Linked DNA regions of Homo sapiens. The protein of the gene in region 2 interacts with the protein of the main gene of each other region in a pairwise test. Each region holds a gene or a part of one and is shown on either strand. Other genes may lie near its edges.

The links.
Region 1: the proteins of HSFX1 (region 2) and RBFOX1 interact in a two-hybrid assay, tested with the Homo sapiens proteins (one large-scale study listed by BioGRID).

The regions. Positions count from the first base shown.
Region 1 is NC_000016.10:7,576,024-7,579,523, reverse strand, and holds part of RBFOX1 (RNA binding protein fox-1 homolog 1), read right to left. Parts: intron 1-3,500. UniProt on the Homo sapiens protein: RNA-binding protein that regulates alternative splicing events by binding to 5'-UGCAUGU-3' elements. Regulates alternative splicing of tissue-specific exons and of differentially spliced exons during erythropoiesis.
Region 2 is NC_000023.11:149,772,662-149,776,867, forward strand, and holds HSFX1 (heat shock transcription factor, X-linked), read left to right. Parts: upstream 1-1,406; 5' UTR 1,407-2,020; coding exon 2,021-2,584; intron 2,585-3,421; coding exon 3,422-4,129; 3' UTR 4,130-4,206.

The sequences.
Region 1 (3,500 bases), on a different chromosome or scaffold from region 2:
TCATGAGGGCAACACAGACAATAAATCCATAGATAGAGTGTTGGCAGACAGAGAAAAGCACTATAGGCTAGAAAAAGCAAAGGAAGGGGACTGGGAGCTGCTGGGGTTGGGAGGTGGGGAGCGAGAACCTCATCAAGAAGGGGGTAATAATCTTTAAAGGCAGGACAGTGTGTATTTCTTAACCGACGCTGTTCAGAATCTGAAGATATGCCTACATAATTGTTCAGGTAATTGTGCAGATAAAACATAATTAAATGTAAAAAATGTGAAAAGACTAGTTGGCATTCTGGAGTTCAAATAACCAGCTGATTGACTTATTCTTTTGAGGTTCTAATTGTACAAACTTTTGCTGTCCACTACAGTTGACCACATGTGACAATTTACATTTAACTGAATTAAAACAAGATATTTAACTTTGTTTGCATTAGCTGCATTTCAAGCGCTCAAGAACCACATGTAGTTATTGCTTCCATACTGAATAATGCAAATACAGAACGTTTCCATCTCTGCAGAAAGTGCTGTTGTGCTCTGTTTGCCTAGACCATGTAACATCATCAGCATAACTGATTGTTTCACCTCCCCTGTCTTCCAAATAAGGCTGTATAACATGACGTTACATTGACACCCACATATTTGGCAGGAACGAGGGGAAAAGTCACAGTCACATTAGGTATCATTATAGCCACTGCCATACTCTCGGTTCTAGAGTTTTAACATTTCAGACATTTAGCATTTGATACTTCTCTGCAATTAGCAACTATTGCCTCCAGCTGGCAGTAAATGCCATCCACATCAGATACCAACTTTGAAACTATGATAGAAAGCTTACACAGAAGCCTATCAAATTTATGAGTGAGGAATCATCCTGACCTGTTTATAAGCAATCTAGAAGTACATAATTGGGACAAAACTATCAATGTAGGCAGCCAGGTGTAAAATAATAACGACCGAGAGAAGACAATCTTACAAAGTGAAATACAAAACAAACACTCAGATAACATGGGCATAATTAGCAAGTTTCTCATCAGCCCTGGTATGTACTGGAAGGTTTCATTTGCATTTTCCTTCCTAACACACCCTGAATCGCATTTTGAAATAAAGACATCTTGTTAGCTGGCAAACCATTCTTCCAAGATGCTCTGGTATCAAAAGACCTACCAGTTGACTTCAGCTTTTAAGTGCAAGTCATGTATTTAGACAATGTATTTAGTCATTTTGCCTATACTGTTGGATTGAATAGGAAGCAGTACAGTGGTCATTTTCTTAACTGGTAAATAAAGAATAATGAGTTCATACCTTTTGAGGCTTTGTGATTGATTAATGTGTGCTAACTTGGCCAAGTTCCTGGTATGTATTCAATAAATGGAAAGTGACGAAATGTTTAGAATGATGGCAAGTTTTTTAAATACCAAAAAGAGAAATAAACCTCCTTTGAGAAACACGAAGGAAAGGTTTTCATTTGCTTATTTTTAAAGTGTTTACACATCTTTACTGAGCAACTGCTTTGTGTTGGACACATAAATCAGCCCTCCTTGTCACATGCAATTCCAACTTTAGTGCATGACACCAATAGAGAAAAACAATCATAAATAGAATCATTTTGTCATTGTCTTTTGTTGTTGTTTTCTTGGAGTTGGGTCTTGCTCTGTCACTCAGGCTGGAATGCCATGGCACAATCACGGCTCACTGAAGCCTTGAAATCCTGGGCTCAATCTTGCCACATCAGCCTTCCAAGTAGCTAGGATTACAGGCATGAGCCATTATACCCAGCTAATTTTTATTTGCAGAGCCTGGGTCACACTAAGTTGCCCAGGCTGGTCTTGAACCTCTGGCCTCAAGTGATCCTCCTGCCTCTGCCTCTGCCTCCCAAAGCACTGGGACTACAGGCGTGAGCCACCATCCCCAGAGACTGGTAAATGTTGGGATAAGAGGCAATCACAAAGGGCTGAGTAACCTTAAATCAAGGTCATATGACACTGCTGGAGGTTCAGCCAGGCTTGCCAATTCTGGAGGTTAAACGTTAAGTGGGAGATGTCTAAGAGAAGAGGTGAAAAGGACTGAGGCTATTCCAAGACAGGGCAGTGCATGTGCAGATGTGCAGAGATGTGAAATGATGTCTTGGATTCAGGAGAGTATGTGTGGACTCCAGCACCACTGGTCAGATGAGGCATGTATGAAGGGAAGGCAGGAGGACAGGTTTCAAAGATAGTCAAGGGGCTAGATCAAAGGACACTGTGCAAAGCAAGAGTCTGAGCTTCATCCTAAGAGCAATAAGGAGCCACCTAAGGGTCACAGCAGGAGTGTGGTATGACCAGCTTGTAACACAAATGATAAATGTCTGTTTAACAGTTGGCTCACTCACTGACCGAATGAATTATTAGTACACGAATAAACAAATGCATGAAGAAGTGTACAATCAATGTCGCCGCCTTCATGTGATAGTCGAAGAGCAACACTGTAACACTGAAACCCAAACAGAGCAGAATTTGCGTTTTCTCCGCTGAGAATACGAGGTTTGGTGCCACGTCCATGACACAGAAATGAGCTCGAATCCTGCAACTGTCACTTTTCAGAAGTTAAGGGGTTTTAGTACTCTACACCCAGACTCGGAGTTTACAGATGCTGTAGCTGAAACCCTAAGCTTCCAGTCCATTCTCTTCCATCCTGTTAGAAGTTCCCGTTTCAATGCAAAAACAAAATGAGCTCCTTCTTATCCTGAGAAGGAAACATAGATTTGGATTTGTGTATAACTGCTGGATGTTTCAGTTTAATGAACCTAATTAGGAATTACAGAGATTATGATTAAACATATTAAATGATTAATAGCATTATACCGCTCATGTGAAAATTAAAATTAATCATCTCTAGTCAAACAGCACTTTGGAGAAATCTTTGCATTGTTTCCTTTGATAAAAACATACAACGCTCAATTAATCATTTTGTAGTGTATGCTTATATACAAATGCGTATAAACTGTTATGGAGAAATACCTGTGTATTAAAAAGAATCCTTAAAGCATGCAAAATAAAAAAGTAAGCCAAAAGTGTTTCAGGTCATTGTGGGTGTATGGAAAGGGAAAAAGAAGAGTGTTAGGAAGTAGAGGTTGAGGAGTGAATAAAACAACAGAAAAAGGAAATCTCTTTCAGCCTGCATGCCTTTTATATGGTGGGATGCAGCACAATGAACCAGGGTTTTGGAATCACACAGACCATCCCTGTTATTTGCTAATCTTAGGCAGGTCACTTTTCTTCTCTGACCTTCACTTTACTTTTCCATCAAAGGACATTAATGGGGTAATGGGGCTAGGTGCAGTGGCTCATGCCTGTAATCCCAGCACTTTGGCAGGCTAAGGTGGGAGGATCATTTGACACCAGCCTGCAACATAGTGAGACCCTGTCTCCACTAAATAAATTAAAAAAAAAAAAAATAGCTGATCATGGCCATGTGCCTGCCATCCCAGCTACTTGGGAGACCGAGGTGGGAGATGGCTGGAGCCCAGG
Region 2 (4,206 bases):
CGAGCACGACTCCGCCCTTGGCACTGGCCTCCAGCAAGCCCTGTTCTCTTTGGGGTACAGGGGAACGGGATGGTTTAGACTTTCCTGCTCAGTGTGTAAAAAATGTAGCTAAAGCCACTATTTTTGCTCTCCTTAAGCTGTTCAATAAACCGGTTCCTCATTTTACACGTGCATGATGTGTATCTTCTTTGCTGGATGGGCCAGGAAACTGGAGTGGTCCTCTCAGCCAGCCTCAGAGGAAAGAAATCTCTAGCTGGCACAGGCAGCCAGTGAGTGAGGCTGGCGGCTGCAGGGGCACAGCCTTTAGAATGAGTCCTTCAGTGCACAGGTCCCAGGGTATACGGGGTAGTGGGAGGAAGGAGGGGACGCCTCGCAGATGCCACTGTTGGCTGGGCTACACCTTGCCACACTTGTTACTGCTTAGGAGGCTTTCTGGAGTGTTCCTTGGGTGCTACGACAATCTGCAGCAGACACTGTCCTTTCACCGCTCCTGGTCCTCGTTTGCTCCCCAGTGATGTCAACAGCTGAGGACTGCTCACGCTGCAACAAAAGGCTCTGCAGTCGCTGTCTAGCTTGCCCTAGTCGTCTCTAGAGTTCTGCCTGAACTGAAACTCAAGTGGGGTTCAGCTCATGACTTGTGGCAATTGACCAGGAAATTCACCAGTTGCTGTGGCTGGAAGGATTTTCAGTCCTGTGGGTTGTAACCAGAGGCCACAGGTGGATTCTGCCTTAGGCTCATGAGATTTCCGACTTGCTGTTGAAGAAAATGCCTTGTGAAGTGACAACAGTAGCTCTGACCCAACTGCCGGTGCCTCGCTAGTTCCTATACGTCCCACTGGATCCTCACAGCCCCGGGAAGCAGGTGCTACTACTCTTATCCCCGGGAGGAGACAGAGGCCGAGAGAGGTTAAGTGACGTGCCCAAGTCACACAGCTCGGCAGCGGCCGGGTTGAGCATCAGCAGTCTGTTTGCAGACCCCTCACTGTCACCCCCTGAGCCAGTGCGCCTTGGGCCCTGCGGTCAGGATGTCTCAAGCGTGGAGGCATCACCGGTTCGTGGCAGTCTCTGGAAGGTCACTGAGCTCTGTGCCCAGAATCGAGTCGGGGGAGTCTGTGCAGAGGTGGCCCTGTGTGTGGGGACAGTGTGTGACACAGACACTGCTTTGGATGGACACCTCTCCCGTGACCTCCTAGCATCCAATCCCAAAGGAACAACTGTTGCAGAGATGGACCGCTGGACACAAACCCACGTGCGTTTCTCTGGAGACACTGGCCAAGGAAAACAAAACATGCTCGAAGGCCAACAGCTGCATGCCCCACCGCGATGTGACCGCAGACACCCGGGGTGTAGAAGGGTCTCTGCCTGGTGGGGGGACACGTGCAGGCCGAGGAGAGGCAGGAAGGAGGCTGCCTCCGACTCCCCACTGGACTGCATGGCGACGGCGTGTGGTGGGGCAGTCAGCTAAGCCATTTGCCTAAGGGGCTGTCGGGCATCTGCGTGCTGGGGACCGACAGTGTGGGTGTGTTAGGAGGATCTGTATGGAGCACATTGCTGCCTCTGGCTAGGACAGGGTGGAAAGGGTGGCGTGGCTACAGCCTGACCCATGGGCACCGTCCTACCCTTTGTTCTGTGCTTCCGAGTGTCAGTCATGTGCTGGGGTCTGTGGGCCCATGACTCAGACGGTGAGCTCTGACCTTCCTGAGCCAGGGCTTTGCTGTAGTTGTGCCTGGCTCAGGAGCTCTAGGACAAGGGGACCGCTCCAGGTCTGCATCTACGGTGTGGCAGGGCCCCTCGGCACTCTTGTGCACTAGTGTCATCTTTCCCATTGAAATGACTGTGAGGACCAGAATGTGCACATGCAGATGGGCAGCTACTTGTCTGCCTTGGCCCTTTATTACACAACTTGCTGGGGGTGGAGATGCCACCCCCCGGCAGTCAGAGCCCCTTTATGATGTCATGGGGCTGGTTACATGACTGCCAAGGGGTGCTGCTGGCCACACTGCACTAGCAAGTTTGCCAGATGGAGGACAAGCGATCATTGAGTATGGCTCGCTGTGAAGAAAGAAATTCGAGAGGACAGGATCATGGCTTGGAAAGGGTGCCTTTCCCTCCCCAGTTGCAGTCAGAGACCTACCTTCACCCAGCAGATCCTTCCCCTGCCTGGGACGACCCGGGGTCCACTGGGAGCCCTAACTTGAGGCTGCTGACAGAAGAAATCGCTTTCCAACCTCTGGCCGAGGAAGCTTCGTTCAGAAGGCCGCACCCTGACGGTGACGTCCCGCCCCAGGGAGAAGATAATCTCCTCTCCCTCCCCTTTCCACAGAAACTGTGGAGACTGGTCAGCAGCAACCAGTTTTCGTCCATCTGGTGGGATGACAGTGGGGCTTGTAGAGTGATCAATCAAAAACTCTTTGAAAAGGAGATTCTCAAAAGGGACGTCGCACACAAAGTGTTTGCCACAACTTCGATAAAGAGCTTCTTCCGCCAGCTAAACTTGTATGGCTTCCGAAAACGGCGTCAATGCACTTTCAGGACCTTCACCCGCATTTTCTCCGCAAAAAGGCTGGTCTCCATCTTGAATAAGGTAATGAACGACAAGCCTCTGGAGGGGTTAAGTCGGTGGGCTCTGGGGCCTGGTCGGGTGGAAGTCCCAGGACTGCCTCCTGGGAAGTGGGCGACCTCAGGCAGGGTGTGGGGCCATCGCTGTGGGCCTGTGTCCCCCTCTGGGTGGAGGTGACATGAACTAAGAGTGAATGTGGGGAGAGGGCTGAGGATGGTGCGGGCCCCTCTCGAGTGTGTAAAATATCACAGGTGCCAAGTAGCCGTATCTGCGTGTCGTCCTCCCCGGGGCCAGCCATGTCATCTGGCGGTTGCTGTGTCCCCCTGACTCCACAGCACATTACCCTGTGAGGTGAGCAGGCCAGGGGAGTCTGGTATTTGTACCACTGTCACCCTAGCTGGTGTCTGGAGAGGTGCTCAAGTGGAAGCACTGAAGGGCGCCTGGCGCAGGAGGTGCAGATGCTCCTGCTGCCCTTGGTAGGTGGGCCCCTGGTGTGGAAGAGCCAGTACCCAGGGCCTCCAACCCAGCCGGGGTGCATTCTGTTGCCAGCTGACACTGCATGGGGGAGGCCCAGAATCTTCTTCCCTCCTGGTCTGCAACTTCAAAGACCCTTTCCGCCGGCCATGGACACCCTAATCTGCCATTTTGAGGCTTTTTCCAAGACGGAAAGGCCCGCCACAACTTGGTAAACCTTGACGATGTGAACGCGAGTCCCCAGCTTCCTTTGGGGACTGGGACCTTTTCCAGAAAGGCCTCCTGGGCCAGTAGAGTTCTCTTGCACAGGGGCGTAGATGGTTGGTAGTTGTAGTCCATCCTTGTGACTTGCAGTTTCCTTTTGTTTATTTAAACTTTGACTTATAGTTAGAGTTCTACTGCCATCCTTACTTTCAAAGAGACTCCCCTCACCTCCTCGTGAGGATGAAGAGAAGAGTGGGTGTCAAGTCTGCACCAAGACATCAGGAGGAGGACAAGCCAGAAGCTGCTGGATCCTGTCTGGCACCAGCAGACACTGAGCAACAAGATCACACGTCTCCGAATGAGAATGACCAGGTCACACCGCAACACCGGGAACCGGCCGGTCCCAACACCCAAATCAGGAGTGGCTCTGCTCCACCAGCAACTCCTGTGATGGTGCCTGATTCCGCCGTGGCGAGTGACAACAGTCCAGTGACCCAGCCGGCCGGCGAGTGGTCAGAGGGCAGCCAGGCTCACGTCACTCCGGTGGCCGCTGTCCCTGGGCCTGCAGCGCTGCCCTTCCTCTATGTCCCTGGATCTCCCACTCAGATGAATTCTTACGGGCCTGTGGTGGCCCTTCCCACAGCGTCCCGTAGTACCCTTGCCATGGACACCACAGGACTTCCTGCACCTGGCATGCTGCCCTTTTGCCATCTCTGGGTACCGGTGACCCTAGTGGCTGCTGGGGCTGCACAGCCTGCTGCCTCCATGGTCATGTTCCCCCATCTCCCAGCTCTGCACCACCATTGCCCCCACAGCCACCGCACGTCACAGTACATGCCAGCTAGCGATGGGCCCCAGGCGTACCCAGACTACGCAGACCAGAGCACATAGAGGGCAGCATTTGGGCAGAATATGTGCTGGTCAATAAATGTGTCAGAAAATGAGTAATTTTCTGACTGCACAAAAAA